4 linked regions of the Homo sapiens genome follow. The protein of the gene in region 2 interacts with the protein of the main gene of each other region in a pairwise test. Each region holds a gene or a part of one and is shown on either strand. Other genes may lie near its edges. The genes, in order: ZMIZ2, ASB13, POU6F2 and PANK2.

Region 1 (5,980 bases), on a different chromosome or scaffold from region 2:
CCAGAGACAGCGTGTGTGTCCTACCTGAGTGTTGGTGCTGGGCCCAGCGTCCTGCTCGATGTGGAAGGTGCTGGGTGGAAGCAAGCATTTGAGTGGGGGAACCTGCCTGGAAACAGCCCAGGGCTGGGAGGGGCAGTGGGTGCCGGGCCAGCAGCAGGCCAGGAGGTAACCATTCCCCACCTGTCCCTGCCCAGCTCTGACTATGAGGAGATCACCATCGACCCCACGTGCAGCTGGAAGCCAGTGCCCGTGAAGCCTGACATGCACATCAAGGAGGAGCCGGATGGGCCAGCACTGAAGCGCTGCCGCACCGTGAGCCCCGCCCACGTGCTCATGCCCAGCGTGATGGAGATGATCGCCGCCCTGGGCCCCGGCGCTGCCCCCTTTGCCCCCCTGCAGCCCCCCTCAGTCCCTGCCCCCAGCGACTACCCTGGCCAGGGTAAGTACAGCAGGCTAGCCTTGAACCTCAGATGACCCTGGGCATATGGCTCCTCTCCCCAGATCAGTCTCCTCACCTGCAAGAATGTGGCTATGCAGGTCACACACCTAGGTTATCAGTGTTGCCACACAAAACATGCCGCGGGGCACCTCCAGCCCCTCCCATCTCAGGGACGTGGCGGTGAAGGCACAGTCTCAGCTATGGTCCCAGGAAACAGACAGTGGGGCCTCCACCCTTCCTTCCCCGTTTGGATTAAGGGGCTCCTGGCTGGAACACCTCACAGGACTGGCCCCATCTGGGGCCCCCCTCTGGGACCCACCTCACACGCGTGGTGCGTTTGTTTGTGGCTGCTCCCATTCCTATAACCTCCGAGACCTTCACTCCTAGGAATGTCCCAAGGCCAATTCCCTTGGCAGCAATGAGAAGAAATGCCCTTTTCCAAATAGCGACTTCTGCAAAACCCGCTGTTGTTTGTGGGTGAGCACTGCAAGTCCCACCCATGCCACAGCCAGCCTCCCTCCTGGCTCCTCTGCCAGCGGTGGCCTTCCCCAGCCCTCACCCAGGCCCCGACTCTCCTCTCACAGGTTCCAGCTTCCTGGGGCCTGGAACTTTCCCTGAGTCCTTCCCACCCACCACGCCCAGCACCCCAACCCTTGCTGAGTTCACCCCGGGACCACCCCCCATCTCCTACCAGTCTGACATTCCCAGCAGCCTCCTGACTTCAGAGAAGTCTACCGCCTGCCTCCCAAGCCAGGTCAGTGCCAAGCCGAGAGGCCAAGGGGCCCTGTCTCCCCAGGGGAGCCCCTGAGCTGTTTTAACAAATTCTTCTCTCTGTCTTCAGATGGCACCAGCAGGTCACCTGGACCCCACTCACAATCCTGGGACACCAGGACTACACACCTCCAACCTTGGGGCCCCTCCAGGTCCCCAGCTGCACCATTCAAACCCTCCCCCAGCGTCCCGGCAGTCCTTGGGCCAAGCGAGCTTAGGACCTACGGGTGAACTGGCCTTCAGTCCTGCCACAGGCGTGATGGGGCCCCCCAGCATGTCTGGAGCCGGGGAGGCCCCAGAACCAGCTCTGGACGTGAGTACCAGGCCCCATGCGGGGGAGTGCGTGGGAGCCAGGGCTAGAGGTGGTGTGTCTGTTCCAGGTGCGTTCTGGAAGGGAAGACAGTGACCCCTCAGAGAGCCGGTCAGATAAGGTCAACTAAATGCAGCTTTTGTTCATGAATTAGATACCTGGAGTAGCTGCGGGTGGGATGCGATGTACCACATTTGTGTTCATGAGGGGCCTGGATGCCGTACGGGCGGACGCAGAGTCTCAGAGGAGACTGCACTGGAAGCTGACAGCACGGTCCTTAGAGTCAAATTTCGTCTGTCCATTTGCTCAGTAGCCCTGGGTCTTGACTCACAGGTGGAATGGGAGTGCAAACTCAGTACATGAAGGACAGAACTGACTGTCCCTGGACCATAATAGAAACTCATTCTAGAAGTTCAACATGAAACTCATTCTAGAAGTTCAACATGAAAAAGTTAGGAAGAACAGCTCCAAGCAGAAAATCCTAGGGGCATGGAATTCCACCACCAGCATTCACCTTGGGGCATCACGGTGGGGATCCCCACGCAGGCTGATGCACAGAGGGAGTGTGGAGTGGCTGCACTCCCTCACATCCCGTTTCCTGGTGGTATTGAACAGCATGTTGCCAGCTGTTCTGGCCCCAGAGCAACCTTGCAGGGAGGTCCCAGGGGGTGGCGTGTGCCTCTTTGAGCACATGCAGGCCTATGGTGGGGCCCCGCACCCGGCCTGTGTGTGAGGAGGGGCTGCTCAGCATCCCCACTGTGCCTGGAGACAGGGCCGGGATGTGGTGACAGGATGGTCACTCAGGTGTGGCCAGTCAGTGACCAAAGCTGCTAACAGAGTTCACTTTGTCCTCAGCTGCTCCCGGAACTGACCAACCCTGATGAGCTACTGTCCTACTTGGGCCCACCCGACCTCCCTACGAACAACAATGACGACCTGCTTTCTCTGTTTGAGAACAACTGATCCTGTGTTTACCCCAAGCCCGGCGGGGACACGCTCACAGATGTCACCACAGCCCTGCCCTTCATGCCCAGCCCCATGGGACACCCGGTGGTCTTTCCCAAACCTCCCCCAAAACACACCTGGAGCCAGAGCCTTCTGCCGCCAGCCCTGCCCCTGAATTGGAAGCAGCCCTGTGCTCGATGGGAGGGGCTCCCAGGCCGGCAGCCCTTGCCACCTCCCTCTGCCAAGCCTGCTGCTGCAGAACGGTTTTTGCTGAGGTGCCCCTGCCCAGCCCTGTCCAGCCTTGTCCACACACACATCTCACGCCCCTGGTCTCACAGCCTCACACCTTGTCCTTCCACCCCTGCCTGCCCCCACCCAGCCTGCTTCTTGTCCAGCATTGATCCTTCTGTTTCAACAACTCCTCCACTGGGCAGAGCTGGGCATCTGGCAGGGCTGGCTCTGTCCCCTGGGCCTTTGGCTCCAGTGGCCCCTGTGCCCAGCAGTCCAGCTCTTGGAACCTCGCTGAATGGCAGCCTCTTGGGGGCCTGGAGCTCTGGCAGCCCAGCCGTGTGTGGTGTCAGGTTCCTCTCCCCACCCCAGCTTCAAGCAGAGGCCTCGGGGTGGGGGAGCTACAAAGCACAACAATGTACATAGTGTAGAAACACTAACAGCTGGGAGAGGGGAGCCAGCTGTCCAGCCAGCATGTTCCTGTTGTACAGCCCGGTCTCCCTGCGCGCTCTGCTCCTTCCCATGTGCAGACAGATCAGGGAGGAACCTCCAATGGGTGGGGGACAGTGAGCTTCGGCCTGGCCGAGGTGGGTGGGTGGGCTCTCAGATTCAGCTCTGTGTAAAGATTCTCTAGCGGGCTGCGCTCCCAAGTTCCCCTTCTCTGTGAAAGTGAAGAATTAGTACAGCTGTGTTTTTTAAAGCCACCTCTCTGTCTCCACCCCATGGGCCCACACCCAGGTGGGGGAGGAGGAAGCCACTGCATCTGTTGGCTCAGGGCCCCAGCCTGTGCGAGCAGGGCGCCTGGGCTGTTGTGTCTCCTGTCTGTGCCGATCTCTATTAAAGGACTCCCTCTTGGTGGGCCTGGCCGAGTCCCTCCTTTGTGCTCCCAGGGACTATTTTCTCCTCGTAAGCCAGCGACCTGCCTAAAGCTTGGGCTGTGCCTGCAAAGCTTGTGCAGGACCTGGGGGCCAGGTCGACCTTCAAGTGGCTTTTGGGGCCCCAGGTTGAGCTCTGGATGTTTCAAGCCAAGGCTCGGCTATTCCCGCCCCATAGTAAATTTCCTTTTCCCTGGAATTTTCCAAGTTGGCTTCAGCTGAAGAGCTGTTTTGTGAAGCATCCCAGGCTTGCCCAGGAGAGACATTTGCCACTATGTCACCTTATCTGGGCTTGCCCTGGGGCACTGAGACAGTTGTTTGGCAGCCCCAGCCCAGCCAGGGGCTCATCCTTCTCAGCTCTTGTCCCTGGGAGGCCTCTGCTTGTCACTTCCCAGAGATTGCAGAGGTGTGTCCTGCCTACCATCTGCCTGTCCAGCTTGGTGGGGGTCCGGGTCACCATTTCCTCCAGTCCTGGGCCCCATCCTTGAGGGCCTTCCCAGCCAGCCAGCAGGAGAGGCAAGAACTGGGGGAACACAGGAACCTAGGGGAGGAGGGGAGCGCTGGGCATCCTCAGGCTGGCGGCCAAGGCCTGCCCCTGGAGGCACTAGAGGAGGGCATCTGTCTGTGGGAGCCCAGAGGCTGCAGGGAGGAGGAGGAGGGAGGTATCTGGTGTGAGCGTTGCCCCTGCGACATTTGGGACCACACAGGTGGGCTTCCTTATTCCCTGACAAAGCCTCTGTTTCCAGCTCTTCCGCCCTCTCTGGATGAGGGAACAGAAGTGGAGGAAACAAAAGAAGCAGCAGCACGCACAGTCCTGTCGCTGGGTGCGGAGACAGCCTGGCAAAGTCCCACTCAGCCATGGCCTGATGCAGGCCCCAGGCCCTCCTTTCTTGGGTGTCAAATGACTGTGTCCTGGACATCTGATGCACCACCTGCCCTGCCTGTTGCAAACGTGATGCTCCCGGATGGAGTGGAGAAACTAGGAGACTGGGACAAGCAAAAGGCTGCAAACAACCCAGAAGCCCATCCTCAGAAGACTGGAGAAATGATTGAGGAATGCATGGGCACCGTGGCCCTGTGCTCCATCACAAACACCTCTCAGAAACAACGTGGGATGAAAAAGCAAGACAGTTCATACAGTATGATGCCATTTTTATAAAGCTCAAAACCAAATATGTGTGGAATTCATACCCAGGTGCTAAAGTCATCAGGGAGGGCAGGGAGTCAGTACAACACAGTGCTCACCCGTGGGGAGGGGACGGAGCTGTGCTTAGGGAAGAGCAGAGATGCTGGAGGTTTTGAACCTCAGGGTCAGTGGTGGCTTCGTGGGTTTCACTTTGTCGTACTTTCTGTTTCACACATTTTCTTGTGAATGTGCCAAGTATTACATAAAAACCAAAAGGCTGACCAGACTTAACAGTGCTCCACCCAATAGCAGCAGAACACACGTTTCTAAGTGCACAGGGAACGTTCTCCAGGACAGACCACACGTTAGTGCACAAAGCAAGTCTCAGTAAATTAGAGATCGGAATCCTGCAAACCACCTTCTCCAATCACAATGGAATAAAACCAGAAATCCATACCAGAAGGAAAATGAAAATTCACACATACATAGAAATTGAACACACTTTTTAACAGCCAAAGGGTCAAAGGAGAAATCACGAGAAAAATTAGGAAATAGAGATGGATGAAAACAACATACCAGAACTTAAGGAATGCGGCAAAAACTGCTCTGAGGGAAATTTATAGCTGCAAATGCCAACATTTAAAAAGATGCGACATCTTGGCTGGGTGTGGTGGCTCACGCCTGTAATCGCGGCACTTTGGGAGGCCGAGGCAGGCAGATCACCTGAGGTCAGAAGTTCGAGACCAACCTGGCCAAAGTGGTGAAACCCTGTCTCTACTAAAAACACAAAAATTAGCCAGGCGTGGTGGCTCACACCTGTAATCCCAGCTATTCACGAGGCTGAGGCAGGAAAATCACTTGAACCCAGGAGGCAGAGGTTGCAGTGAGCTGAGATCATGCCATTGCACTCCAGCTTGGGTGACAGAGTGAGACTCTGTCTCAAAACAACAACAAAAAAATTCCTAGAAAGATACAAATGACCAAAATTGTCCCAGGAAAAATAGAAAATCTGAACAGGGCCAGGTGCAGTGGCTCACACCTGTGATCCCAGCACTTGGGGAGAACTAGTTAGGAGGATGGCCTGAGGCCAGGAGTTCGAGACCAGCCTGGGCAACAGAGACCCTGCCTCGACAAAATCTTTAGAAATCAACCAGGTGTCATGGCACGTGCCTGTAGCCCCAGCTACTTGGGAGGCTGAAGCAGGAGGATAGCTAGAGCCCAGGAGTTCAAAGCTGCAACGACCTATGACAGCACCACTGCACTCCAGCCAGGAATGAGGCAGAGAC
Region 2 (8,445 bases):
GAGACCAGCTGGTGGGAAGATGTTTAAATGACAGACTAAGGAGTTTAGATTCTACTCTTTCGAGCAGAGGTTGCAAACTGTGGCTTATATCTTGACCGGCCAGCATGGCCTTTGTCTTTGGATGCACATCTGGGGTGCAGGGTATGGGGTATGTGCCCTTCCACGGTGCTGGCAGGGCCATGGCTGCATGTGGCTCACCCCTGATTCCTGCTCGTAGGTCTTTCCATGTCTGCAGGCCATGGGACAGCTCCAGGGAGCTCTTGAAGGTTTCTGAGCAGATGTCGAGGGTCAGGAAAACAGAATTTGGGGAAGGTTCATTTAGTGGTCCTCCATGTGCAGATAGACGGAGGTGCAGTGGTGGCTGGGGTCTCCTGGAAGCAGAGGGATGAGTTGGGGACCATCGCTGAGATCAAGGTGCCCAGTGCTCAGAGTAGGCTGGTGGAGTGGGATGGTTTCATTTAGTAGGGTTGGGGAAGGAATCCATAGGATTTCGTATGAAGGGGAGGCTCAAGAGGTCAGAAATGAGTCAGGTTTGAGTCAGGAGCAAGGACCCCAGGAAAGGGAGAGGGCTCTAGAGTGGGAGACACCGGCCGGTGGCCAGCACATGGCTCTGGGGCTGGGGCTGGGTGTGAGGCTGGTGGGGAAAATTAGGGAGCTGCCAACAGTGAAGAGGTAATTGAGTGAACGGAAAGGTTGGAGCCTAGACGGAATGTGCAGGGGCGGGAGGATGGGGGGCCTGGAACCCCGCTCCAAATCCGCATTACAGACCCAGGAAGAGGAGCCACTTAAGAGGCAGGAGAGGCCGGGCGCTGTGGCTCATGCCCTTGGTAATCCCAGCACTTTGGGAGGCTGAGGTGGGCGGATCACCTGAGGTCAGGAGTTTGAGACCAGCCTGGCACATGGTGAAACCCTGTCTCTACTAAAAATACAAAAAAATTAGTCGGGCACGGTGGTGCATGCCTGTAATTCCAGCTATTTGGGAGGCTGAGGTGGGAGAATCGCTTTAACCCGGGAGATGGCGGTTGTAGTGAGCTGAGATCGCACCACTGCATTCCATCCTGGGCAACAGAATGAGACTTTGTCTAAAAAAAAAAAAGAGGCAGGAGAGGCGGCTGCCGTGGTGCACAGGAGGATGACCTGCATAAGAAAGTCTGGGGGGTTTCCTGGGAGGCTGGGCTCAGTGCTGACAGCCGCAGGTAGACACAGGGCAGGGGGGCAGCGGGGGAGTTTTCCCTGACCCATTCTAGGTGGTGCCCCATGTCTTCTGTTCTCACAGCAAGAAGCCGGCCAGGCCCGTTTCTCCCACTGCCTTGAGCCCTCCGTCCTCAGCGGGGCGCAGAGCCGTGTCCTGGCTTCCTGAGGGCCATGCGGGTCATGAACTCCTCCCTAGGTTGGGACGCAGGCCTGCCTGGCTTCCCTGCCCTGCACCAAGGATGGAGGCTGCTGCCCCTGCCGCGTCTGTGTGCTTGTTGTCTCCAGTGTCCGTATTCAAGGACATTCCCCCCCTTTTCCATTTATCTTAAGGGAGTTCCGAATGTGTGAGGCTTCTTATTGACGTCGGGGCCAATCTGGAAGCGCACGATTGCCATTTTGGGACCCCTCTGCACGTTGCCTGTGCCCGGGAGCATCTGGACTGTGTCAAAGTGCTGCTCAATGCAGGTGAGTGGGTGTTTGCCCGAGCGGGTGTTTACCTGAGTGGGTGTTTGCCCGAGCGGGTGTTTACCTGCGTGGGTGTTTGCCCAAGTGGGTGTTTGCCCGAGTGGGTGTTTACCCGAGTGGGTGTTTACCGGAGTGGATGTTTGCCCGCGTGGGTGTTTACCGGAGTGGGTGTTTGCCCGCGTGGGTGTTTACCCCAGTGGGTGTTTGCCTGAGTGGGTGTTTGCCCGTGTGGGTGTTTACCTGCGTGGGTGTTTACCCCCGGGGGTGTTTGCCCGCGTGGGTGTTTACCCGAGGGGGTGTTTGCCCGAGTGGGTGTTTGCCCGCGTGGGTGTTTACCTGCGTGGTTGTTTACCCCCGTGGGTGTTTACCCGAGGGGGTGTTTGCCTGCGTGGGTGTTTGCCTGCGTGGGTGTTTACCTGAGTGGGTGTTTACCTGAGTAGGTGTTTGCCCGCGTGGGTGTTTACCCGAGTGGGTGTTTGCCCGAGTGGGTGTTTACCTGAGTGGGTGTTTGCCTGCGTGGGTGTTTACCTGAGTGGGTGTTTGCCTGAGTGGGTGTTTACCCAAGGGGGTGTTTGCCTGAGTGGGTGTTTGCCTGCATGGGTGTTTACCCCCGTGGGTGTTGCCCACGTGGGTGTTTACCCGAGGGGGTGTTTGCCTGAGTGGGTGTTTACCTGAGTGGGTGTTTGCCCACGTGGGTGTTTACCTGAGTGGGTGTTTACCTGAGTGGGTGTTTGCCTGCGTGGGTGTTTACCTGAGTGGGTGTTTGCCTGCGTGGGTGTTTACCTGAGTGGGTGTTTACCCCCGTGAGTGTTTACCCGCGTGGTTGTTTACCTGAGTGGGTGTTTACCTGTGTGGGTGTTTACCTGAGTGGGTGTTTGCCTGCGTGGGTGTTTGCCTGCGTGGGTGTTTACCTGAGTGGGTGTTTGCCTGAGTAGGTGTTTACCTGAGTGGGTGTTTGCCTGAGTGGGTGTTTGCCTGAGTGGGTGTTTGCCTGAGTGGGTGTTTACCTGCAGAGTGTGTATTTATGGATTTATCTGAGAAGTTTGCCTGAATGGGTATATACTTGCAAGGCTGTTCACCTGAGCAGGTGTTTACTTGCACGAGCATTTACCTGAACAGGTATTTACTGTGCCTAGCAGAGAGCTGGGTAGAGGAGTCAGAGGGACCAGGGTTGGAGGCTGGCTCTCTTACTTGCCAGCTGAGACCTCGGGCCTCAGTTTACATATCTGTAACACTGGAAGAATCTATGCTGCAGGTTGCTGGGAGAACTGAGGATGTTTCCCCGGTGCCTGGTGTGTCCTAGTAGGTACTCAACAGATGCCAATGATTATTTCTAGAGATCACAGGCCACTGTCCCCACAGCTGCCTGGTGAGGTTGCTGCCTGAATCCAAGAGAGAAGGGGATGTAATGGGAAGTGGAGTTGGCAGCGTTTAGGAGAATATGGAGCATTTGGAATCCAGGCCATTGTCGGGTGTTCGAAAAGACTCAGGATTGAGATTCCCAAAGAGGGAAAAAAATCAAAACCAAAAAGACCAACCAATCGAGGATTAGGCTCAGGACCTGTCTATACCAAAAGTTTTAGCCAAAGTGACTGTTAGCACAGGGTTTTTATCAACCCAACTTAAATGTTTTGTTGAGGGAAAATTTTAGTTTCATCATCTTATCCAAATTCTGGGTGTAGTGTAGGATAAAAACAAAACTGTTTAGGATGGCTGGGCACTGTGGCTCACAGCCATAGTCTCAGCACTTTGGGAGGCTGAGGCGGGAGGATTGCTTGAGCCCGGGAGTTTCAGCCAGCCTGGGAAACATAGCAAGTCCCCTTCTCTTAACAACAAGAACAAACCTGTTTGGGAACAGGAAGATCATGAATTCCCCCTGATGACAGCCATTTGAGCTTAGTTATGTGTAGTTTTTTATTGGAGAATCTTACTCACTTTCATGTGCCACTTTTCAGTCTTTTTAGTGGAAAAGATTCGTTTTGTGTAGGAATAGTTGTTGAGGTACTTTTAATTTTTTTATACACTGTCTTAGAAGTATCTCCATTGGAAGCAGGTGTAAGCGTTTCCAGCCGAGCCGTTCCTCTGGCAGCTGGATCCGTTTCTATGAACACAGCGCAGTGCGTTCATATCAAGCCTTTATGAGCTCAGTACACACGAGTTCCATTTTTACCTTCGTTCTGTTTGGTGTGGTTGTAGGGAAAGGGATCAACTTAGTGTTTAAAGCAAACATCCTTTCTGTATCAGTTAGGACTTCATGTCAGTTGGACACCTTTGCGAGTAACAGGAAGCCACTTCCACTGGTAAACAATGGCGGGCATTTCTAGTTCAGGTGACTTCAGGGCTGAGACGCAGAGCAGGATTAGGGGCGGCTGGACCGGAGGTTCCGTGGTGTCACCCAGGCCTCAGTTTCTTTGAACGTTGCGATTCTGCTTTCCTCAGTATTGGCTTCATCCTAAGCCTCCGGCCTCCCTGAGCAAGGTCACGGGGCTGCAGTGGCTTCAGGCCTACACGCCAGACGTTTCCTGTTTTAAGCCTTCTGGAGGCTCTTTCAGCGGAGTGGAAAATCCCTTTTCACACACCCCTCCCCAGTCCCTTTGCCCAAACTTTGCCAAATTCTGATGGGCTGAAGCCTGGGTCATTAGAACTAATTACTGTGGTCAGGGGAGAGGGATTGGACTAGGCGGGACCCACGCTGGAGCTGAAGTCAGGTCTGCTCCCGCCCCCACCACATTACCAGGTGGCAGCACAGTCGGGGGTGGGGGCTGGAAAGGAAGGGGCAGCTGTGAGGCCCACTGTCGCCCTAAAGTGGGGTTCCCACAGCTCTCCCCGGGAGTTTGCATGCCCCTGGGGAGTTAGAGGTGAACGTGGCTTTCTTGGGGAAGCCTCCGCACAGTGACTGTTGGTGTTGGCTCGATGCTGTGGGTAGCATCCAGCCATCAGCTCCACGCGGGATTCCTGGTTCCCATCCTACTCTTGGGTGGTCTCCTCTAGTACCCCTTGTGAGAGCAGATGGATCATCATCTTCTTCTTAGAAACCATTTTTTCATTGCGGAAAATTTCAAACATACAGAGGAGAGAGAAACAACAGCATCCCCTACGTCCTCACAAACAGATTTTTAAAAAGTAGTGATTCTGATCTTTTGGGGTCAGGTCACAGATCCCTCGGGAAACCAAAGGAAAGCCAGGGACCGTGTCTCTAGAAAAACAGAAGAGTGGAAAGTCCCTTTTCCTGCACCCCTCCCCAGTCCCTTTGCCCAAACTTTGCCAAATTCTGATCGGCTCAAGCCTGGATCATTTGAACCAGTTACTGTGGAGAGGGGAGAGGGATTGAACCAGTCGGGGCCCACATGAGTGCAGGTGCTTTCATGTGCGGTTTGAGAGCTGAGCTGTGAGGCAGAGCCACGTTGCACCCCACGGGGGACGTGGAGACCGTTGTTCTTGTTCTTTGTAGGCAGTGAGGCGAGTCCAGGAACCAGATTGTATTTGCAAAGGAGGAGGGCTGGGGAGGGTGAAAGTCCGGTTATGATGGTGAAGTAATTTTTAATCTGATCACTGACAGTGAATGTTGAACTCTGCCAGGAGTGTTCGGAAGCGGCTCCCTGAGGACGGTCCTGCTTCCACCTTTGTTCTTAGCACTGGCCCTGGCACAATTTAAAAAATTTTTTTAAAATTGTTGTTTAATTTTTAAAAAATTTTTTAATTATAATTTTTTAAATTTAATTTTTTTTTTCAATTTCTCTTGTGGTAACAAGCACCTATTGAGCTATTTGTGTTTATGTTCCAGGATTGTGCCAGTCTTGGCGTGCTAAGGTCTTAGGCGGTCCCGTCACGTCACTGGCCACGGGTTCTCTGAATCCACTTTAATCCTATTTTGTGTTGAAAGCAGGATTTTGGTAATGAGCCTGTGTTGACCCCTTTTCTCTGAAGCACGAAGTTCAGAGCTTTTAATTCCCTGCTTGTTTCCTGGCTCCCTGTCTTTGTCTCTCTCTGTCTCTGTGTCTCTGTCTCTGCCTCAGTCTTTCTCTTGCCTCTCAGTTCAAGGTATGTTACCATCCTTGCTTCACACAAAGTTACTTTCTTTCCCTCTCCTACCCTCTTTCTCTCTTCCTTCTTTCCTCTGTATCTGTTCCCTTCTTTCTTTCTTTTTTTTCTGAGATGGAGTCTCGTTCTGTCACCCAGGCTGGAGTGCAGTGGTGTGATCTCTGCTCACTGCAGCCTCCATCTCCCTGGTTCAAGCGATTCTCATGCCTGAGCCTCCTGAGTAGCTGGGATTATAGATGTGCACCACCACGCCCAGGTAATTTTTGGATTTTTAGTAGAGACGAGGTTTCACCATATTGGCTAGGCTGGTCTTGAACTCCTGACCTCAGGTGATCTGCCCGCCTCAGGCTCTCAAAGTGCTGGGATTACAGGCATGAGCCACCGTGTCTGGCCCTGTTTTCCTCTAACGAGTACCTGTTTATGTTCTCTTTCTCACTATGGGCCTCACTCTGTCATCCAGGCTGGAGTGCAGTGGTACGATCGTGGCTTGCTGCAGCCTCAACCTCCCGGGCTCAAGTGATCCTCCTACCTCAGCCTCCAGAGTAGGTGGGACCACAGATGTGTGCCATCACGCCCCCCGGGTAATTTTTAAATTTTTGTAGAGCTAGGGTCTCACTATGTTGCGCAGGCTGGTCTCGATTTCCTGGGCCCAAGAGATCCGCTCGCCTCGAATTCCCAAAGTGCTGAGATTACAGGCGTGAGCCCTGTACCTGGCCCAAGCATATATTTTTAATGAACATAGCTGATCGAGTTTCATCTCTGACTCTCTTCTTGGCTCACTCAGTGCTATACTTTCAGGATCCATCCATGTAGCTGCCTGCACCCCTGGCCTGGTGTTTCCCTTCAATCCCTTATTCACAATTTCATTTCCTTCCTTATTCACCTTCCTTCCCTTCCACCCAATCAAATGATGCCAAACACACATTTTGAAAAGATGTACATTGGGAAGGCTGCCTCCCTGCAAGAGCCCCTGGCCAAGGCCTCGTCTGTGGAGCGTGGCAGGGAGCGTGATTTTTAGAGCTCTTTCCAGCCATGGTTTTCTCCCTGATCGTGAGAGAGTAGCTGTGCCTCCCTTGGGCCTCTTTCTCTGTTTTTCTTCTTTTGTTAAAATAGAGACCATCTCTTTCTCTCCCAATTGGCAAGAATATTGCCAGAATTAATGACATGAGAGAAAGCTACTTGAACTTTAGATTCTGTGGATGGTACAATTTGTTTTTCATTACAAGCATATGTTTAGTGTTAAAATTTACTTCGTGTTATGATTGCAACATTATACTGGAGGAAAACCCCTTATGTGAAAGAGAGGTTGAATTGTGGGGAAATATTTCTTTAATCTATTGCTTTTGAATATTATTTTTTTGTAGTACATTTCTGCCAAATTCAGGACATAGATAAGTTAGCATTTTTCCTAGTTGAGAGATCCTTTTCCTGTTCTGACTTCTGAGTTTTGGCTGCGGGAAGTGGAAAGAACTTTCTTAAATTATGTCATCACTTTGGAGGGCTGGGGCGTTCTTAGGATCCCTCCACGAATGCTGTTATGAGCATGGTTCTTATGTGCTTTTAGGGGATTAAAATATTTTAAAGCAGAAAGCGGGATTTTTCCGATGCTTTTTGAGCTAGAGGAACTAGAAAATGTAAAAGCGTTCCACCTCTCAGCTCCTCTTTTGACCCTCTGAGACTGTCGGGAAGTGATGGCATGCTAGTGTCTGATTGTTTTAAAATCCCACTTTTGATAATACTTTATGTTTGTGGTTTGAATCTATCATTTGGCGAATTATTTTACTGATGCTGGGCGATTTGCTTGGCTTCTTTAAAACACTTCTCTTTTATTTGTTTTCTCTTATAACCTCCTTTGTTACTTGAGGAACAGACTTCGAATAAAATGGCATTTTCTTTCAAAAGAATTCTGAAGCCCTGGGGGATTCCATTGTATCGGATCAGTGATGGCTGTGCCCTAAGAATGATGTGTTACAAAAATCATATTTTTATCAAAATTTTTTTTAGTGTGTTGCAAAATGCCATATGTGACCAGGTGTGGTGGCTCATGCCCGTAGCCAGGAGTTCGAGACCAACCTGGCCAACACGGCAAAACCCCGTCTCTACAAAAAATAGAAAAATTAGCCGGGCATGGTGGCACACCTGTCATCCCAGCAACTCGGGAGGCTGAGGCAGGAGAATCGCTTGAACCCTGGAGGCGGAGGTTGCAGTGAGCCGAGATCATGTCACTGCACTCCAGCCTGGGCAACAGAGTGAGACTCTGTCTCAAAAAAAAAAACCCAAAACCAGCCATATTTAGCTACTAATTCCTTGCATCTTTCTGAATGTCTGCTCTTTTTTTTAAAAAAAAATTTTTTTTTACCTTTACTTTTAATCAGCTTGATGAATGTCTGCTCTTATCGTGAGAAAGTTGAGGAGTGCAGAGCTTACTCTCTTCTCTGAATTGCCTACTGTTTTGGGTACGTTATCTGTTTTCCTTTTGTAAAAGAATATGCATTGTTAAGGAACATTTATTCTTTCATTCAACCAGTATTTCTGGAGCCTCCGTCCTGGGCCCGCAAGAGGAAGAAGCAGTGTGTGTCTGTGCTGGAGGCCAGGCGGGAGTGCTTGAGTGGCTCTGGTTTGAGCTTCCGGAAATCTCAGGACCCCTGAAGGCAGATTGATAGGGCATTAGAACGGTTGTTTAACTCAGGACATTTTTCGTTTTATTTTTCTTCTTTTCGGTTCTATTTCTAGTTATTTCTTTAT
Region 3 (9,334 bases), on a different chromosome or scaffold from region 2:
GAAGTGCTTAGAACAGTTGCATGGCAAATTGTAAATACCCTAGGATGTCTGCAACTCTCGAACTTTTTAGTCTTAGTTTCTTTACACTATTACAGAATTATTTAAGACCTCAAAAAGCCTTTGTGTTGTGGGTTATGTTTACTAATATTTACTATATTAGAAATTAAAACCAATAAATTAAAAGTTTACTTACTGATTTATTTTAAATAGCTACATAACATAAATAATTTGTTTTATGAAAAAAATTATGTTTACCACAAACAAAATATCTAGTAAAAAGAGTGGCTTTGTTTTAGATTTTTGCAAATCTCTAGTAAGTGTCTGACTTACTAGAAGATGATTGGAGTCTCATGTCTGCTTCTGCATTCAATCTGCTATGAAATTACATATCATGCAGCTTTGGGAAATGCTACTGTATGCTCTTCAGAAAATGAGAGTGAAAAAGGAAAAAATCTCATTTTAGTGTTATTTTGAAAAAGTTTTGTCCTTCCAGACCCCCTGAAAGGGCCTCATGAACCCTCAAGAGTACTCAAACTACATCTTGGGATCCTCTTCTATGTTTTCCATAATTATTATTGCTGTTATTGTTATTGATGATGATGATGATTACAAAGAAATCCAGAATAGATATAGATATGGGTTTTCCAATGTAAGAGCTGCAAGTTTTGAAGTTCTCTTGATGAATTTCGTTCTGTACAGTCATCCATTTAAAAACGTTTGTCTTTAAAATGGTGGAACTAGGTCTATGTGTTGTGAATCTATCAATATAAGGAATAAAAGGACAGTGGTATTTAGCTTTTTCAGGCATGTGAAGCTATAACCATGAAATAGAAAAAGTCCTCTAGTGTACTGTGGCTGTAAGGAAACAGAATGTGTGTCTCCACCATTGTGGAGAATTTTCATGAGAAGTTACGTGTTAACATTTGGGCTCAGACACAAAAACTACCCAAAGTACAGTAAAACCCAGGAGCATTTCAATGCCTTTTTCCAAGCATATTCAAGCAGAAGAAATATATTCTAGAAGACCTAGAAATGCATAACTATAGCCAAAACATTTCATGAAGAGGGCAAATGGAAATTAAGGAACTGGCTCCATGTGTTGGCTTTTTCTATTTTTATCCTGGGTAAAGTCCCCTGGCAGAAAGGATGACGAAGTTGGAGGTCTGATAATGCATTAGTATATTCACAGGTCTTCCTTGCCCAGAGTCAACAGGCTCTTGAACTTCTCAGCTGCTCATTTTAAAGGCAATATCTTGTCACTGTTTCTCAGGGGAAAACCAGTGCTCCCAAATTATGTTGTAGAAGAAAACTGTAAATCATAGGTCATCACGACTAACGGTGCCTTGGCTCAGCCAAGTCAAGCCCCTCTCAACTCTGTAGTCCCTGGGCTTGATGTGTGAGGTTTCCTCCCTTCTCCCCTTCTCTTTTAAAAATAATCAATCTGTTTTGGGTATTTTTCCTGTCCTCAACTTCCCTAGAAATATGAAAATAACAACAAAAGATCCCAGGTTATAGATCAGTTACACTGGTCAATGTCCTGTGGAATTAAGAGACCCCTAATGTTGCTTAAGGAAACTGATGGTGATTAAAAAGACCATTCCAGAGAAATGCTCTACAAAACTTGAAAGTAGACAAAAATGTAGTGTTGTGGGGGTAAAAATAGAAAAAGCAATGGATCATTCCAGAGGCTGATGGCAGCATATGAAATTCTAGGAAAAACTGACTTTGAAAAGAAGGGCAGAAGCAAAGCCAACTGAAGAAGGGAAAGGGCAGTCAATGAGGAGTCTTGATTAGGGTATGTTGATTCTTGTCCCCCCGTCATCTGATTCCCATGTCAGCCTCAAAAATCACGTGATGACACAGCTATGTGGTGAGTCATGCTGTAGAGAGTGCTCTGCCATGATGCTTAATGTAGGAAGAAGACTGGAGTCTAGTAAACTAGGGGTGGGAGATTTAAAATGAAAAATAAAACGAGTCAGAGGAATGGTAAGTTAGTCTTTTAAAAACCAGGAAAGGTATGTACGCAAAAGCAAGAAGTAACAGAGAAATGAAAAAAAAAAAAGAGTAAAACCGTAAACAAAAAAGCAAACAACTACAACAAAAAGAACAGGTCTCAACAGAGAGAAAGGCATGTCATATCGATTTGTATTACATCTACATGTTATGATAGCATAAGTAGAAATATACTAAGTCTAGTAAGAGTGTCTTGATGACTTTTTGAACCATCTGTTCACTTTTTTTTTTTTTTTGCTTTTGGTCCTTGGATTAAAGAAGCCTCCAGGTATGTTAGCTCTTCTCATCCCTAAACATTGCAAAACATTCATCAAAACAAAGGAAGATGGAGATGACCAACTTCTGCACTTTATCTTGATTCCCAGTCCTCCATTTATCTATCAGTGTCCTCTGTGGTTTAAGAAATCAAGGACATCGCTATCCTGAGAAGCTAGGGACTGGGATTTTGGGCAATGGTGGGACCTCTTTTGGTTTGACTTACGGTGACCTTTTGCCATCACTGCTGCCTTGCCTACAAGAGTATCTTGGAAAAGGACATATCTAGCTGCTTCGCGATCAAGGAGTGGGCTTTAGAGGGCCAGAAAATGCACAATATTATGGAAATTTGATGGGAGGTAAGAAAACAGAGAGATGATGGTAATGGTGAATATTTCACTCAAGGAGTCTCCTTTCCTAAAATGCTACTGTGGGAATGGGAATCAATATTAGTTGGCATACCCCCATTCTCTCCCATTTGTTTTCCATTAATCAAACCTTAGAAGTGTCTGCCACCCACATTGATGGAGAAACAGATGGTTTGCTCATGCTGTTTCCCTTGCCCTGAACAGGAGCTGCCCTCTGTTTATATCACAACCCAAATCTTTTCACCATCTGCATAGAGGCTTCCTCCCTTCCCCAGGAGAATTAATCTTTCCTGCCCTCCATAGACCTCCCATATGGGAAAATAACTAACACTTGCTGGGCACTTACACAGTATAGCTCAATAAGCTTTCACAAAACATTATCTCCCCAAATCCTTACACTACCCTTGAGGGATTATTATCACTGGTATAAGACACAAAATCCATGACTCAGAGAAATGGCACTTTCTCAAGGCCACACTCTCTGAGAGGTCAGGGAGGGAGTCCATCCCAACCCGAGCCCATGCATTATGGTGCCTAAAGTGTCAGCATGTTCCACCAGCTAGCATCAAACAATTCCCCCAGATAAATCTTTTAACCATTTGGTTTATTTTTATTATGTTTCTAAAGCAATCTGTGCTGTTTTGCGCTAACACCAATACAGTACTTGGCACCTAGTACAGGTTCCATAAATATGTGCGGAAGAGTGGGTGCTTCATGTGTGATAGTCACTATTGTGAATGTTACTTGACTCTGTGGTTTCATATGAAGGGGCTCCAGTTTTGGATTCAGAGCAGGTTCAAATCATATTCCTATTAATCATGAGTTGTTACCTTTTTTTTTTTTTTGAGCCTAATCTGCAAAATGGGAATAACCATCTCTGCCTCACTGAGTTGTTATTTCACATGTAACATACTGTGAAGTGTCTGACACAGTGCCTGGCTCAGCCTCCCATCAACGCTGGCTAGTAATAATTATAATTCATACAGGCCAGATGGTCATGTAAACAACTGGAATATAAGCAAAGAGTGTTGTCCCTACGCCAATCGGAACCACCATAATTTGTGGGACAGAGCTTCAAAGGAGGTCTTCGGCCTCATACTGCAGCTTGGCCAGCCTCTCCCACCCACCTCCACCCACACCCCCAGCCCCCAGCCCCATAGGAAGGCGCTTAAGAAGCTTAGATCCCAGGGGAAGTTGAGCCTCCGATCGGGTGGCAGCGCGTGGGGAACCCAGGCTGCACTACAGAGGACGCAGGACGCCAAAACCACCCCGGGGCTCACGCCATCCGCGCACCGGCTCTGCTGCCTAAGTCCGAGGACGCAGGCGGAGGGCGCGGGGCTCCCGGGCGCCCAGGAGGGCGGTGCCGCCGGGGTGCGCTCCAGGCTTGGCTGCAAACCCCCCAAGAATTAGAAAGCGGGGGCGGCTGCTCAGCGGCTGCTGCGGCCTGGGACTGCAGCTCGCCCCTCCTCCGCAACTTCCCACTGGTCCCGTCACCTGGCTTTCTGTCTAGTGTCCGCCCAGGCGGGGTCCCAAGAAGGCGATGCCAGGAGCAGTCGCGCCCCCTGCCCTCTGTGAGCCCGCAGGTTTCGGGCAAGTTTGGCTCAGTCCTTGTCGATGCTCCAGGCTCGGCTTCCCTGGCCTCCCCTTCCCTGGCCAAAGGAGATGATGGGAAGCCTGAGGTTCTGATCTGGGATAACTGCAGAAACCCCCGGGTAGGACTTCAGCGCAGACGGGACATTTAATGATGTTGAGAAGGGCCTTTCCTCAGTTAGCCCTCAGCTCCCAGGAGGGCTACCCAGTTGGTGCACGGTCTCATTTTATTTGGGGATGCTGATTTAACTGTGTGTGTGTCTGTGTCTGTGTGTGTGTGTTTGTGTGTGTGTGCGCGCGCGCTTCGGTCCTTCATTCTTTGCTCCTAAAGATTTCTTTAACAATGTTGAAAATTGTTTTGTTTTTTTTTTCTTACTTGAAGTTCCTTTTGATTAATTTTCAAGCCGTGGGTATTATGCAATAATATACATAATAGTATATATTCTGTATTAAATATTTCTCATTGCTACCCGACCTGTCATCAGTTTAGAGCCTTGAAAAAAATCTCCATTTTAATATTAACACAAGGTTTTCCCATAAATTTGTTTTGAAAAGTTAGGGAGAGTATACTAACTAATGAACTTCAGTTAAAAAGTAGGCAAATGAAAAAAAAAAAGAAAAAAAGTAGGCAAATGCGAATGTTCTTCACTGCCACAAAGCCACCAAGTTAACGGATGGTGTTTATGGGTTTGGGTTTTTGGAGAGCAACTTTACAATACCTGTAGGATTGTCTTGAAAGTCAGGTTCCGATCTTTAGCCTAAGAAGGTTAAAAAGTTGGTAAGTTATATTCTTTTCACCCTTAACAATAACTGACCCATAATGCATTAGCAATCTGTCCCTAGATTGTGAGGAATCAGATAGTTAAAATTAAATTTAGAAAGTTAAAATACTTGTCATCACATTAAAAACACATTACATCAGTTTAGATGAGCTGCAAGTAAATCATCCCTTACCTTTCAGAAGATAAAAAGTTTAGTGACTGCTATTTACACACTTTGAATATTTTATATTACAGTGGTCATCATCATTTACACGGATTATTTTCTATGTCCACTTCCAATTCACAAATATCAGGGTGTTTGTTATGTAGCAGTTCACATTTCAAGCTTCTCTGAAAAGGTGTCCTTATATAAAACAACAGAGATAACTGCATATTATCAAAAGGTCATTTAGAGATTTTAAAAATAAAATCATTAGGGACCCCTTAAGAAAAGTAGAGCAATGAACTGTAATTTTAAAAATGTATATAATAGCACAAAAATCAAAGTCTTAATGGACACTCATTTGAGATAGTTCATTTTGTTTTTGTTTTGTTTTAAACATAGATTTCTAGAGCATTAAAAACAATCCTCATAGGTTTGTTAAACCTTTAGCGGAAGATTACAGCCCATGTTTTTGTCTTTGGTGAATAGCTGTTTGTCTCACTTTATTTACTTGGTATTGGATATTTGTCAATGTCATTTCATATCTACAGAAAATTCTTACGCTCTGTGGAGGTAGTGAATGTGTGTGTGCGTGTCTGCCGGAGGTCACATGACGGTTTCATTCTATTTGGTGGAGCAGCTTGACTTTTTTTCCCCTTGCTTTTGGTGATGGTTGTGAGTGCAGAAGTTGATTGACAGATGCATGCCAGAAACCCCCATTCTCCTTTTCAAAGACAACATATGATGGATTGCTATCTCTCAGCGCAGCAGGACACGGGGACCATGCAAGCTGTAATTGGTCAGGTATGGAGTCAGCCATTTCTCAACTCCCCTTTTTTCCACAAGGGTCTCACCATATGATTCACATAATTCATATTTACAGTACCATCTTTCTATCTGTATCTTCAGCTACCTGCCAGTGTAGTGCTGAAAGTGCGAAAGGCAAAAGGCACCCATTAAATCTGACCAGGGAAACCTCAGCTTAAAACTTCAATGCGATCCTTTTAAACAAAAACTAAAACAACAACAAAAACACTGGAGAATAAATCTAATTTATAATTTGGTCTGAATGTTTCTTAAAAATCTATTTTAGAAATTTGCTTTCTTTTTGGATTTTGATCTCTGAAAGAAAGTGCGAGAAGAGAATCAAGTGTGGTTTCCTAGGTAGTAGTTAATATTTTTCTAATGCTGTTCAATATTTTTATTTTGACTGTGCTCTCTCCTTCTCTCTTTCTCTCCCTCTCTCCCTTTCTCCATATGGGAAATATAAATATATAAATACATGTGCCTTGACTTCTAACCCAGATAATGTGTGATTGAGCCCGGTAAATGTAGTAGTAGTCTTGGCTGCTGCAGAAGGGCAGGCTGCAAATTAAACACTGTCACAATCTTGAAAGGTCCAGGTGGTCTGCTCGCGCTTCCTAATGCAATCCAGCACAGCAGCTTTAATAAACAGCTCCATTTAGTGCCTCCTCCTTGTATCTAGGGAGGTGAGCTGGTCTGGGGCTGCTGTGATGAAATGCCAGAAGAATATCTCTCAGAGGCCTCACAAGCTGATTTTTAGAGCTTTCCCGCTCTGTCGTCTTTGTCTTCCAAATGGGTCAGTGAATCTTGCTCTTTCTGTTTGGTGCTTTCCGTGAAGTCAGTAGTTTATGTTTGTGTTAAAATGTTTGCGTTGTAAGCTAAATCAGAAAACGAAAAGGATCATTGTATTTTCATTTGCCTTCAGATAACTAAAGTGGTGGAAGGAAGGATAGTACCCTCCTGCAAAGGGAGGGTGATTTTTCTGACTATGATGGGGGTGGGGTAAGGAAAAAGGAAATATACATGGTTTCTTTTCTTTTTTGTAATGTATTTTTGACTAAATTTTTCTAAGTTATCTATGTTTACTTATGGATTGTTAACTCATAAACCAGACTATGGTCACGAATATTTATAAACTCCTAAAAGTTTTTTTTTTTGTACACTTTCCAATCAAGACAAGCTGGCAAGGCAATGACATAAAATTTGTTTGCTTTATGTTAATAGCATGGTGGAAAATATATCATCTTATTCTGTTTTCAACAAAATTATAGAAAAGCACTTCAGGGTTCTGAAAGCACATGGTTTATTAATACCAGCATGCTTGCTTCATAATGTATTTTTAGATGGAAAATGTCAAATACATAATACCATGTTTTCACAGGCTCACACTATTTTAAAAGAAGTAGATATTTGCTTCGACAGAGAAATATTTTTTAAAACTTTCAAGTTAATTTTTGTTCTATAAGCATATATAAAGTGAAGTCTCTAGGCAGGAGAAAATATATAAACTGATTTTATATACTCTTAATACCTGTTTCAATGTAAGTACTCACTGACGAGCAAATATATCAAATATAGCTAAAATAATTGTGGTGTAGGGAATGAAATAAATATCTGTTACAATAGATGACTTTTGCATATTGAAATAAAACTTGAGCCCCTGATCACTGTCTTGTCCTGTTTAATAAAACTTTTCTTAGGTTGCAGGTCCTGTCTTCTGTATGGCATAGTTATGGTTCTTAATACCGTGCAGAATTACTGTACTTCAATCTCTAATAAGAATAGGATTTCCTTTTTCTATATATTTCTGGTGAAAAAATCAGGAAAGTCACTTGTAGTTTGTTATTCAGTATTGTTTATTGGAAATCAATTGTAAAGGCATATACTTTTTAAAGGCTCAGGTATATACTTAAAAAAATGAATCAGGACATATTTTTACAGATAGTAGGCTTAACTTCTAATTTGTCAGGATTTAAAATTAGTTATTATTACATAGCTCTGTATTTTGTATGTACTCTTTAGTATAATTGTTAAAGGTTCCACATGTCTAAGAACTCTACAGGTTAATGACTTCTTATGAATACATTGTAAATAGTTGCATCAAAGTAGTCACATGCTTTCTGAAGGTGTTATTTCTCATAATTTGTTAAAAACGCCTCAAAATGCCAAGTCAGTAAATTACAAAAGCAATTGTGCTGAAGGTTGTAAACATTTCTGTGCTAAAATGTACAAACTAGAATGCTGATTTTTTATTTGAAATTGAAACAGTAAGTATTTAAAAGGAAAGAAGAATAGAATATTGTCCTATATGTATACCATAAAAGTCAGAAAGTCTATATTGAAACCATATCTAGAAATATAAAAAAGAAAGGTGGTATACATATTTGAAGTGGATTCATTTCAATAGTTACAGCACAGATAAGTGTATTTACTCAAATGATTACTTCTAACAATAGGGAAAAGAATGTGAAAATAATTTTTATTGCTCTGCTGTCACTCAAAACCAGAAAGGGATGGTTTATTTTTTAGCTCTTGTCTTAAATATCGTCTTATATCTACTCAGCAGGTGTGAACAAGCCCATTTAATAATGCAAATGTTTGTGTTTGTTTCTGCTCAAATACGTTTTGGAATAATTATTATTTTTGTCTTTTTTTTTTCCTGTTCTGAGTGCTGTTCCTAGATGGCTTTGGGTTGGAGGAGCAAATAACCAGTTTTCAGTCAGAATATTGAAAGATTCCCATGAAGTATGAGCTTTAGGTTTTTTCATTCACTCCTAGGATGAAATATCCACAGTTGCTTCCACTGTAGGGAAGAGTAGACTTTTCTGTTTCTGGCCATGATCCAGCTCAGGACACAGCGCTGGCTTCACAGAGTAGAAATTGCTCATATATGCCTTTCCCCTAGGATTTCTCCTCCCCCAAGCAAGCAATTAAGCAGTCTAGTACTTGGAAGAACAAACTCCCTGCCTAGTATATCAAGATGAAGAAACTTGGTTCATTCACACAATTTTTGGAAATCAAATCAGATTTCTGATAGCAATTACCTGTAGTTAGCTTCCTAACCCCTTGAAGGTAGGATGGATTGTTATTCATGGGATGATTTTCAATTCAATTCAATTACACAGTTAATCAGTTTCTGATCGTTGGTTTGATTATCATTTAGAAATGAAGACTTGCATTTCCATCTCTTATGGCCATGTTTAGTGCTTCGTTTCTTTTTTTTGCAGACCTGAGCTTGTGAGTGACAGATTAGTTCATCAGTACTGCGGACCTCCTGTTTTTGTTTTTTCTCATCTCATACAGTCGGGTCACTGTGTCCAATACTCCTTCTGGCACTGCTGTCCCCAGAGGACTTAGGCAGCCCACCATCCTGATGCACA
Region 4 (8,445 bases), on a different chromosome or scaffold from region 2:
ACACTTGAATTTAAATGACTAAAATAAATGCCTGGAGAATGCTACTCCACTGTATCAAGCAAATGTTAACAGCAAGCAGATACAATACTAGCAGACCAAACAACACAAACAAAAAAGCATTAAGAAGGGACAAAAAAAAAACTCTCTCATGTGCATAAAAAGTACAACTGATGGGCCAGGCACAGTGGCTCACGCCTGTAATCCCAGCACATTGGGAGGCCGAGGCAGGCGGATCACGAGGTCAGGAGATCGAGACCATCCTGTGAATGGTGAAACCCCGTCTCTACTAAAAATACAAAACATTAGCCGGGCATGGTGGCAGGTGCCTGTGGTCCCAGCTACTTGGGAGGCTGAGGCAGGAGAATGGTGTGAAGCCGGGAGGCGGAGCTTGCAGTGAGCCAAGATCGCAGCACTGCATTCCAGCCTGGGCAACAGAGCGAGACTCCATCTCAAAAAAAAAAAAAAAAAAAAAAGTACAACTGATGAATGTAATAGCCATGTTCCTTATGCACATAACACATACTTCGAAAACACTAACAGAGAAACTGACACATCTACAAGTCAGTATGAGAATGACACAGACCTCAGGAATTTGTAGATTGCACACACACCTACAAAATTATGGTAGAAAGAGAATTTTAATATCATGGCTAATAAGGTGGATCTAGTAAACACAAATAGAACTCTGGGGAAAAAAAAAAAAAACAGCCGGATGTAATGGCTCACATCTGTAATCCCAGCACTCTGGGAGGCCAAGATGGGTGGACCACCAGAGGTTAGGAGTTCGAGACCAGCCTGACTAACATGGTGAAGCCCCGTCTCCAATAAATACAAAAAATTAGCCGGGCATGGTGGCACATGCCTGTAATCCCAGCTACTTGGGAGCCTGAGGTAGCAGAATCACTTGAACCCAGGAGGTGGAGGTTGCAGTGAGCCTACACTACATCACTGCACTCCAGCCTGGATGACAGAGCGAGACTCCATCTCAAAAAAAAAAAAACCCGGCTGGGCACGGTGGCTCACGCCTGTAATCCCAGCACTTTGGGAGGCCGAGGCAGGTGGATCACGGGGTCAGGAGTTTGAGACCAGCCTGGCCAAGATGGTGAAACCCCGTCTCTACTAAAAATATAAAAAATTAGCCAGGTGCAGTGGTGGGCACCTGTAATTCCAGCTACTCGGGAGGCTAAGGCAGGAGAATCACTTGAACCCGGGAGGCAGAGGGTGCAGTGAGCCGAGGTCGCACCACTGCACTCCAGCCTAGACAACAGCAAGTCTGTTTCCCAAAACAAACAAACAAAAAAAAACACTCAAGACCAGCAAGACTGTTTCCCAAAACAAACAAAACCATGCAAACATTCCTTTAAAAACCCATAAAGCACTCACAAAAATTAACTGCACTAGCTTAAAGAACTTCAAATTCCAAAGAACAAGTCACATTCACTTACTGCAAAACTTCAAAATTAGAAATTAATCCAACAAACAAAGAAATAAATCTATCTACTTTGAAATTTTTAAACTATTAACTCTGGGATTAAAAAGGAAATCAAAACAAAATTTATTTTTAAATGAATGACAGTGAGAATACAATATATAGAAACCAATAGGATATACCCAAAGTAGTACTTAAACGGAAACATCTAGCCTTACATATTTATTAAATATACTCAGCAAGAAAGCCTAAGGGCGAGGCAGCTCATGCCTATAATCCCAGCATTTTGGGAGGCCGAGGCGAGTGGATGACCTGAGGTCAGGAGTTCGAGACCAGTCTGGCCGACATGGTAAAACCCCATCTCTACTAAAAATACAAAAATTAGTCAGGCATGGTGGTGGGCGCCTGTAATCCCAGATAATCAGGAGGCTGAGGCAGGAGAATTGCTTGAACCCGGGAGGCAGAGACTGCAGTTAGCCAAGATCGTGCCACTGCACTCTAGCCTGGGTGACAGAAAGACTCCATCTCAAAATAAATAAATAATAAAATAAAAAATGGAATCTAGTTGTACAGTAAAATTAATAGGCCATAGCCAAAAGAGATTCTTCTCAGTAATGCAGCAATGGCTTTTACATTAGAAATTCCAATTAGTAAGATGAAGGGAAAAAAATCATGATTATCTCAACAGATTCCAAAAAACAAAATCCAATATAACCAATTAAAACCAAGAGGTTTTTTTTTTTGAGATGGAGTCTCGCTCTGTTGCTCAGATGGAGTGCAGCGACAGACCTCAGCTCACTGCAACCTCCGCCTCCCAGTTGTTCAAGCGATTCTCCTGCCTCAGCCTCCCGAGTAGCTGGGATTACAGGCTCGTACCACCATGCCCAGCTAGTTTTCATATTTTTAGTAGAGACAGTTTCACCATGTTGACCAAGCTGGTCTTGAACTCGTAACCTCAACTAATTCGCCCACCTCGGCCTCCCAAAGTGCTAGGATTATAGGCGTGAGCCACTGCACCCAGGTTTTGTTTTCGTTTTTGTTTTTTTGAGAGACACAGTCTCACTCTGTCATCCAGGCTAGAGTACAGTGGTACAATCACCAGGTTCAGGCTCACTGCAGCCTCAACCTCCCTGGCTCAAGTGATCCTCCCACCTCAGCCTCCCAAGTAGCTGGACTACAGGTGCAGGCCACCACAACCAGCTAATTTTTTGTAGAGACGAGGTTTCACCATGTTGCCCGGACTGGTCTCAAACTCCTAAGCTCAAGCGATCCACCCGCCTCAGCCTCCCAAAGTACTGAGATTACAGACGTGAGCTAACACATCCAGCCTAGAGCTCACTGATAAGAGAAGGCCCCTGCCTTCTAGTTAGTGAGTCCTGGCCATTAATTTTCAGATATTTCAGTCTATTCACAGCCCTTAACATATTTCCTGATATTAAGACCTCCAAGGTACTCAGTCTAGACAACCTATACTTGACTTAGGCCACATTTCAAAACGTATGCAAAGCACAAGGTCCCATAATAGGTCTCAACGACTGAAATCCTTTAAGAGTGTGGAAAAACAAAGTTTTTCCTCTGCTCTCACACCACAGCAACGATCAACACAGAAGACTTCTGTGAGCCCACACACAAAGCAAGTAACCAATTCTGCAGCACTCACCAGCTGGGTGCCCTCCAATGCAATTCCAACGACTATGTACCTGGAGATAGCATCATATGCCACAGGTCGAGGGCTAAGTCCCTCAAGACTGCTCCTCCACCACACCTCTGCCAGACACCAGTTGCCAATCTGGGCCTCCAGAACTTCTGATCAACTGGCTTCAAGTTGGAGTTTGCATGACCCCTCTTTGGTTTGGATTAATTTGCTAGACTGGATCACAGAACCTAAGAAACACATTTACTGGTTTATTATAAAGATATTTCAAAAGATTCAGAGGAAGAGACGCATAGTACACAGTATAGGGGAGGGACACGGAACTTCTGTGCTCTCGGGCACTGCACCCTCCTGGAACCTCTTGTTTGGCCATCCAGAAGCTCTCCAAACCCTGTCCTCCTGGGTTTTTAATGGAGGCTTCATTAGTAGGTATAATTGATTAAATCACTGTCCACTGGTGATCAACTTAACCTTCAAGCCCCCACCCCTCCCCAGAGGCTGGAGAGGAGTGAAAGTCCCAACCCTCTAATCCTGTCTTGTTCTTTCCATGACTAAGTCCAGAGGCTTCCAGCCATCAGTTAACTCCTTAGCACACAAAAGGACATCACTGTGGAGTTTCTAAGGATTTCAGGAGTTGTATGCCAGGAAATGGGCAAAAGACCAATATATATATTTCACAACATCACACTTTCCAATGGGAAATACATAGTTCAGTAGGCTGGGCATGGTGGCTCACGCTTGTAATCCCAGCACTTCGGGAGGCCAAGGCAGGCGGATCACGAGGTCAGGAGATAGAGACCATCCTGGCTAACATGGTGAAACCCCGTCTCTACTAAAAATACAAAAAAAAAAAAAAAAAAAAAATTAGCCAGGCGTGGTGGCGGGCACCTGTAGTCCCAGCTACTCAGGAGGCTGAGCCAAGAGAAAGGGCATGAACCCAGGAGAAGGAGCTTGCAGTGAGCCAAGATCGCACCACTGCACTCCAGCCTGGGCGACAGAGCAAGACTCCGTCTCAAAAAAAAAAAAAGAAACACACAGTTTACTTTTAAAAGTGTGCTCAATTTTCCAATATTATGAACTACACTTTTACCAGACCACAGATGGTTAATGACATCGCAAATCCATGTCTAGGCTGTTCTAGGAAAGCAATATCTTGGCCTAACATTGAAAGAGGTACTTTAATAATTATTCTTATTCCCAAAATAGTTTTAAACTCAGGGACTAGATACTTATAAAAGACCACATACCGTAAAATCAGCAAATTCAACAACAAATTCTACATTCAGGAAATATAAACACACAAAATGTAACGAACTACTAAAAAACTGAGATGGGTTTCATTTTTAGAAAGCAAACTTTAAGCCGCAATTTAGAAAAGTTTTCACATCCCAGTCAGTCTTACCTGAACAGTGCCTGAAGATACCCCAAATTATGAACCTGAGAAAAGCTCACAAGGCTACAAACTTTAAGTCCAAAAAACATCACCGCTCTTTTAAATAATCAAAATAGCCATTCTTTTCATTGCCTGATGCTCTACAATAGCCTAGTCTATCTTCCTCCTCCTATTTTTTGAAATGTTTTGAGAAAAAAAAAAAGAAAAAAAAAAAAACGGAGACAGGGTCTCCCTCTGTCGCCCAGGCTCGAGTGCAGTGGCATGATCATAGCTCAGTGCAACCTCAATCTTCCGGGCTCAAGCAATCCTCCGGGCTCAAGCAATCCTCCTGTCTCAGCCTCCCAAGTAGCTGGGACTACGACCATGTGCCACGACATTCTGCTAATTTGTTTATTATTATTTATTTATTTATTTATTTATTTTATTTGAGATGGAGTCTCGCCCTGTCTCCCAGGCTGGAGTGCAGTGGCGCAATCTCGGCTCACTGCAACTTCCACCTCCTGGGTTCGAGTGATTCTCCTGCCTCAGCGTCCTGAGTAGCTGGGATTACAGGTGTGAGCCACCATGCATGCCCTTTTTATTTTTGGAGAGACGAGGTCTGGCTATGTTGCCCAAGCTGGTCTTGAACTCGTGGTCTCAAGTGATCTTCCCACCTCAGCCTCCTACAGTGCTAGGATTACAGAAATGAGCCAGCATACACAGTCAGCAAAATATTTTTAACAACATACATCTCTTCCTGCTATGGTCTCCCCAGATAGAAGGCAGGGACACCAACACTAAACAACCATATTATCCAACTGCATGATTCTTACACATGGCCCCTAAAGTAATATACTGTACCATTTTACACAGCTGCATAAGGGGACGATTTTTAGTCCCTGCTTATTGCTTAGTATTTATTATATATCTAAGAAGACAGGCTGTATTTACTTTGGTTCCACTTAAAGTTGATAAACTGGCCAGGCACGGTGGCACACACCTGTAGTCCCAGCTACTCAGGAGGCTGAGGCAGGAGAATCACTTGAACCTGGGAGACAGAGGTTGCAGTGAGCCAAAATCCTGCCACTGCACTCCAGCCTGGGCGACAGAGTAAGACTTCGTCTCAATAAATAAATAAATAAATAAAAAGTTGATAAATCAATAGGTTAAAAAACACCTTCAGGCCAGGTGCGGTGGCTCACACCTGTAATCCCAGCACTTTGGGAGGCTGAGGTGGGCAGATCACCGGAGGTCCAGAGCTCAAGACCAGCCTGACCAACATGGAGAAACCTTGTCTCTACTAAAAATACAAAATTAGCCAGGCGTGGTAGCGCATGCCTGTAATCCCAGCTATTCGGGAGGCTAAGGCAGGAGAATCACTTGAACCTGGGAGGTGGAGGTTGTGGTGAGCCGAGATCACGCCATTGCACTCCAGCCTGGGCAACAAGAGTGAAACTGTCTCAAAAACAAACAAACAAACAACATCTTTTCGGTCAGGCACGGTGGCTCACACCTGTAATCCCAGCACTTTGGGAGGCTGAGGCAAATGGATCACCTGAGGTCAGGAGCTCAAGACCAGCCTGACCAACATGGTGAAATCCCATCTCTACTAAACACAAAAAATTAGTTGGCCATGGTGGTACATGCCTGTAATCCCAGCTACTTGCGAGTCTGAGGCAGGAGAATTGCTTGAACCCAGGAAGCAGAGGTTGCAGTGAGCCAAGATTGCACCACTGCACTCTGGCCTGGGCAACAAGAGTGAAACTCCTCTAAAAAAAAAAAAAAAAAAACAAAAAACAAACAAAAAAAAAACTCCCATCTTGCCTCTCCCAATGGGCCACAAAGCTATAGCAATCTAACATTTTTCCTCAGCTCCCAGGGGTCAATCCGTCCTAATTCCCTGAAGCTGAAATGCTGAGCCTAATAAAGGCAGCCTAACAGGGCCCCGGCTCCAGTTCCATACTGCCAACAGCAACGCTCCTCGGAAAGCCAAGAAAAAATGATCCATTTTCTAGGCTAGTGTTGTCAAGCTACAAACAAAAACTGTATTATGAAGGTTAGATTTGTAGGAGTCCAAAATCAACAAGCCCCAAAGGTCTCCCTGGCATGCTACAACATGCCTTGCGAGTCATCTTCAAAGGATAAGTTTGTTGTCCACACTACTGTGGAGCACTCTGATCACAGGGCTTCCACACCTTCTGCACACCTGCTGCACATATGCTCAACACCTGGAGCCCTTGATAAAAATGTATGTTCTCTTGTTACATGAGTGTCTACATTTGCCAAAATTGTACATTTTACTCTATTTAATTATGCCTCAATAAAATTTAAAATATAATTTTAGACCCCTTTGCAGACCTATATCATGCAATGGTAGGTTGAGGGAAAGTTTTAAAAACTTGAGAACCACAGCTCTGGATTACATCACACATACCTTCCCCCACCCCAAAATGTGGACCAAGAACACTGGATCTGAAGTCAAGACACCAGGAATCAAAACCCAACTCCATCACTAACTCACTATATGGCCTTGGACAAAAGGACAATTTCACTGAGCCTGTTTTCTCATCTGGAAATTGGGGATAAAAAACACCTACCTCACAGGATAGCTATGAGACTTAACCAAGATGCTTATAAAATACTCGGCATAGTGTCCAAGACAAATAAGCACTCAGAAAATGGTAGCTACATTACCATCATTAGCGTCTTGGTTTCCATCATTTTAAAATCAATCTTTATTTGGTATTTCTTTCAGCCCTGCGAGACATACCCCCCTCCCCACCTGATGCAAAACTTTTGAAGAACTTAAATATACACATGCCTAGCCTCATCGCTAGGGATTCTGATGCAGTAAGTCTGGGACAAGGGCCGGTTTGGGAACTACACTGCTCTAGGAAACGCGTGACAGAACACGACTACAACCAGGACCACAAGAATGCCTAAGATAACCTGAATAGCTCCTTCGACTTTCAAATGACAACTAGTATCTATCTGCACCTTTAGACAAGTAGTGCGGTATCAGAGTAAGGCTTTTTTTTTTTTTTTTTTGAGACAGAGTCGCTCTGTCGCCCAGGCTGGAGTGCAGTGGCGCGATCTTCGATCACTGCAACCTCTGCCTCCCGGGTTCAAGCAATTATCTGCCTCAGCCTCCCGAGTAGCTGCGACTACGGGCACGCGTCACCACACCCGGCTAATTTTTTTGTATTTTTAGTAGAGATAGGGTTTCACCAGAAAGGTGGCACCATTCCATACCCAAACCTCCCAACAATAAATAAAAAAGATTTAGTCTTAGTTGAATTCTCTCAGAGATAAGACTGAAGTATACTCTAGGAGGGTTCGGCAGTCAACAAGCTGCTTCTCCTTTTTTTTTGTTTTTTTTTTGAGGAGTCTCACTGTATCATACAGGCTGCAGTGCACTGGCACAATTTCGGCTCACTGCAACCTCCACCTCCCAGGTTCAAATGTTTCTCCCACCTCAGCCTCCTGAGTAGCTGGGATTACAGGCATGCACCACCACGCCCAGCTAATTTTTGTATTTTTTAGTAGAGACGGGGTTTCAACATGCTGGCCAGGCTGGTCTCTGGTCTCGAACTCCTGACCTCAGGTGATCCACCCGCCTTGGCCTCCCAAAGTGCTGGGATTACAGGCATGAGCCACTGCGCCCAGCCTGCTTCTCCACCTAACAGGGGCACCCCTAGATAGTACAGAAGAAACAAATGGAAGGAAGAACAATCAGTATCCTGTTCATTCCTTTAGCAGGTCTTATACTGGAAAGATGGGTTTTCATGATTTATCAGCCAGAGAAGATAATGAAGGGAATCACGACAAACATCAAACATCAAAACAAAATATAAATCCTATAGCATGAATATGTGTCTACTTAGTTCCCTAAAATAAGTTTCAAAACTACCTTAATATAATTCTCCCCACCCAGTGTAAACCGGTTTTTCTGAGTGTGGTCTTTGAGTCACCTGTATTTGAATATGAGGA

What was found.
Region 1: the proteins of ASB13 (region 2) and ZMIZ2 interact in binary tests that used the Homo sapiens proteins (3 or more experiments, as listed by UniProt).
Region 3: the proteins of ASB13 (region 2) and POU6F2 interact in binary tests that used the Homo sapiens proteins (3 or more experiments, as listed by UniProt).
Region 4: the proteins of ASB13 (region 2) and PANK2 interact in binary tests that used the Homo sapiens proteins (3 or more experiments, as listed by UniProt).

The regions. Positions count from the first base shown.
Region 1 is NC_000007.14:44,765,141-44,771,120, forward strand, and holds the end of ZMIZ2 (zinc finger MIZ domain-containing protein 2), read left to right. Parts: intron 1-194; coding exon 195-439; intron 440-826; coding exon of another isoform or gene 827-861; exon of another isoform or gene 862-884; intron 885-1,023; coding exon 1,024-1,193; intron 1,194-1,280; coding exon 1,281-1,523; intron 1,524-2,375; coding exon 2,376-2,483; 3' UTR 2,484-4,741; downstream 4,742-5,980. UniProt on the Homo sapiens protein: Increases ligand-dependent transcriptional activity of AR and other nuclear hormone receptors.
Region 2 is NC_000010.11:5,642,184-5,650,628, reverse strand, and holds part of ASB13 (ankyrin repeat and SOCS box protein 13), read left to right. Parts: intron 1-1,524; coding exon 1,525-1,659; intron 1,660-8,075; exon of another isoform or gene 8,076-8,156; intron 8,157-8,445. UniProt on the Homo sapiens protein: May be a substrate-recognition component of a SCF-like ECS (Elongin-Cullin-SOCS-box protein) E3 ubiquitin-protein ligase complex which mediates the ubiquitination and subsequent proteasomal degradation of target proteins.
Region 3 is NC_000007.14:38,972,105-38,981,438, forward strand, and holds the start of POU6F2 (POU domain, class 6, transcription factor 2), read left to right. Parts: upstream 1-5,804; 5' UTR 5,805-5,849; coding exon 5,850-5,954; intron 5,955-7,790; exon of another isoform or gene 7,791-9,334. UniProt on the Homo sapiens protein: Probable transcription factor likely to be involved in early steps in the differentiation of amacrine and ganglion cells. Recognizes and binds to the DNA sequence 5'-ATGCAAAT-3'. Isoform 1 does not bind DNA.
Region 4 is NC_000020.11:3,891,732-3,900,176, reverse strand, and holds part of PANK2 (pantothenate kinase 2, mitochondrial isoform 7 precursor), read right to left. Parts: intron 1-8,445.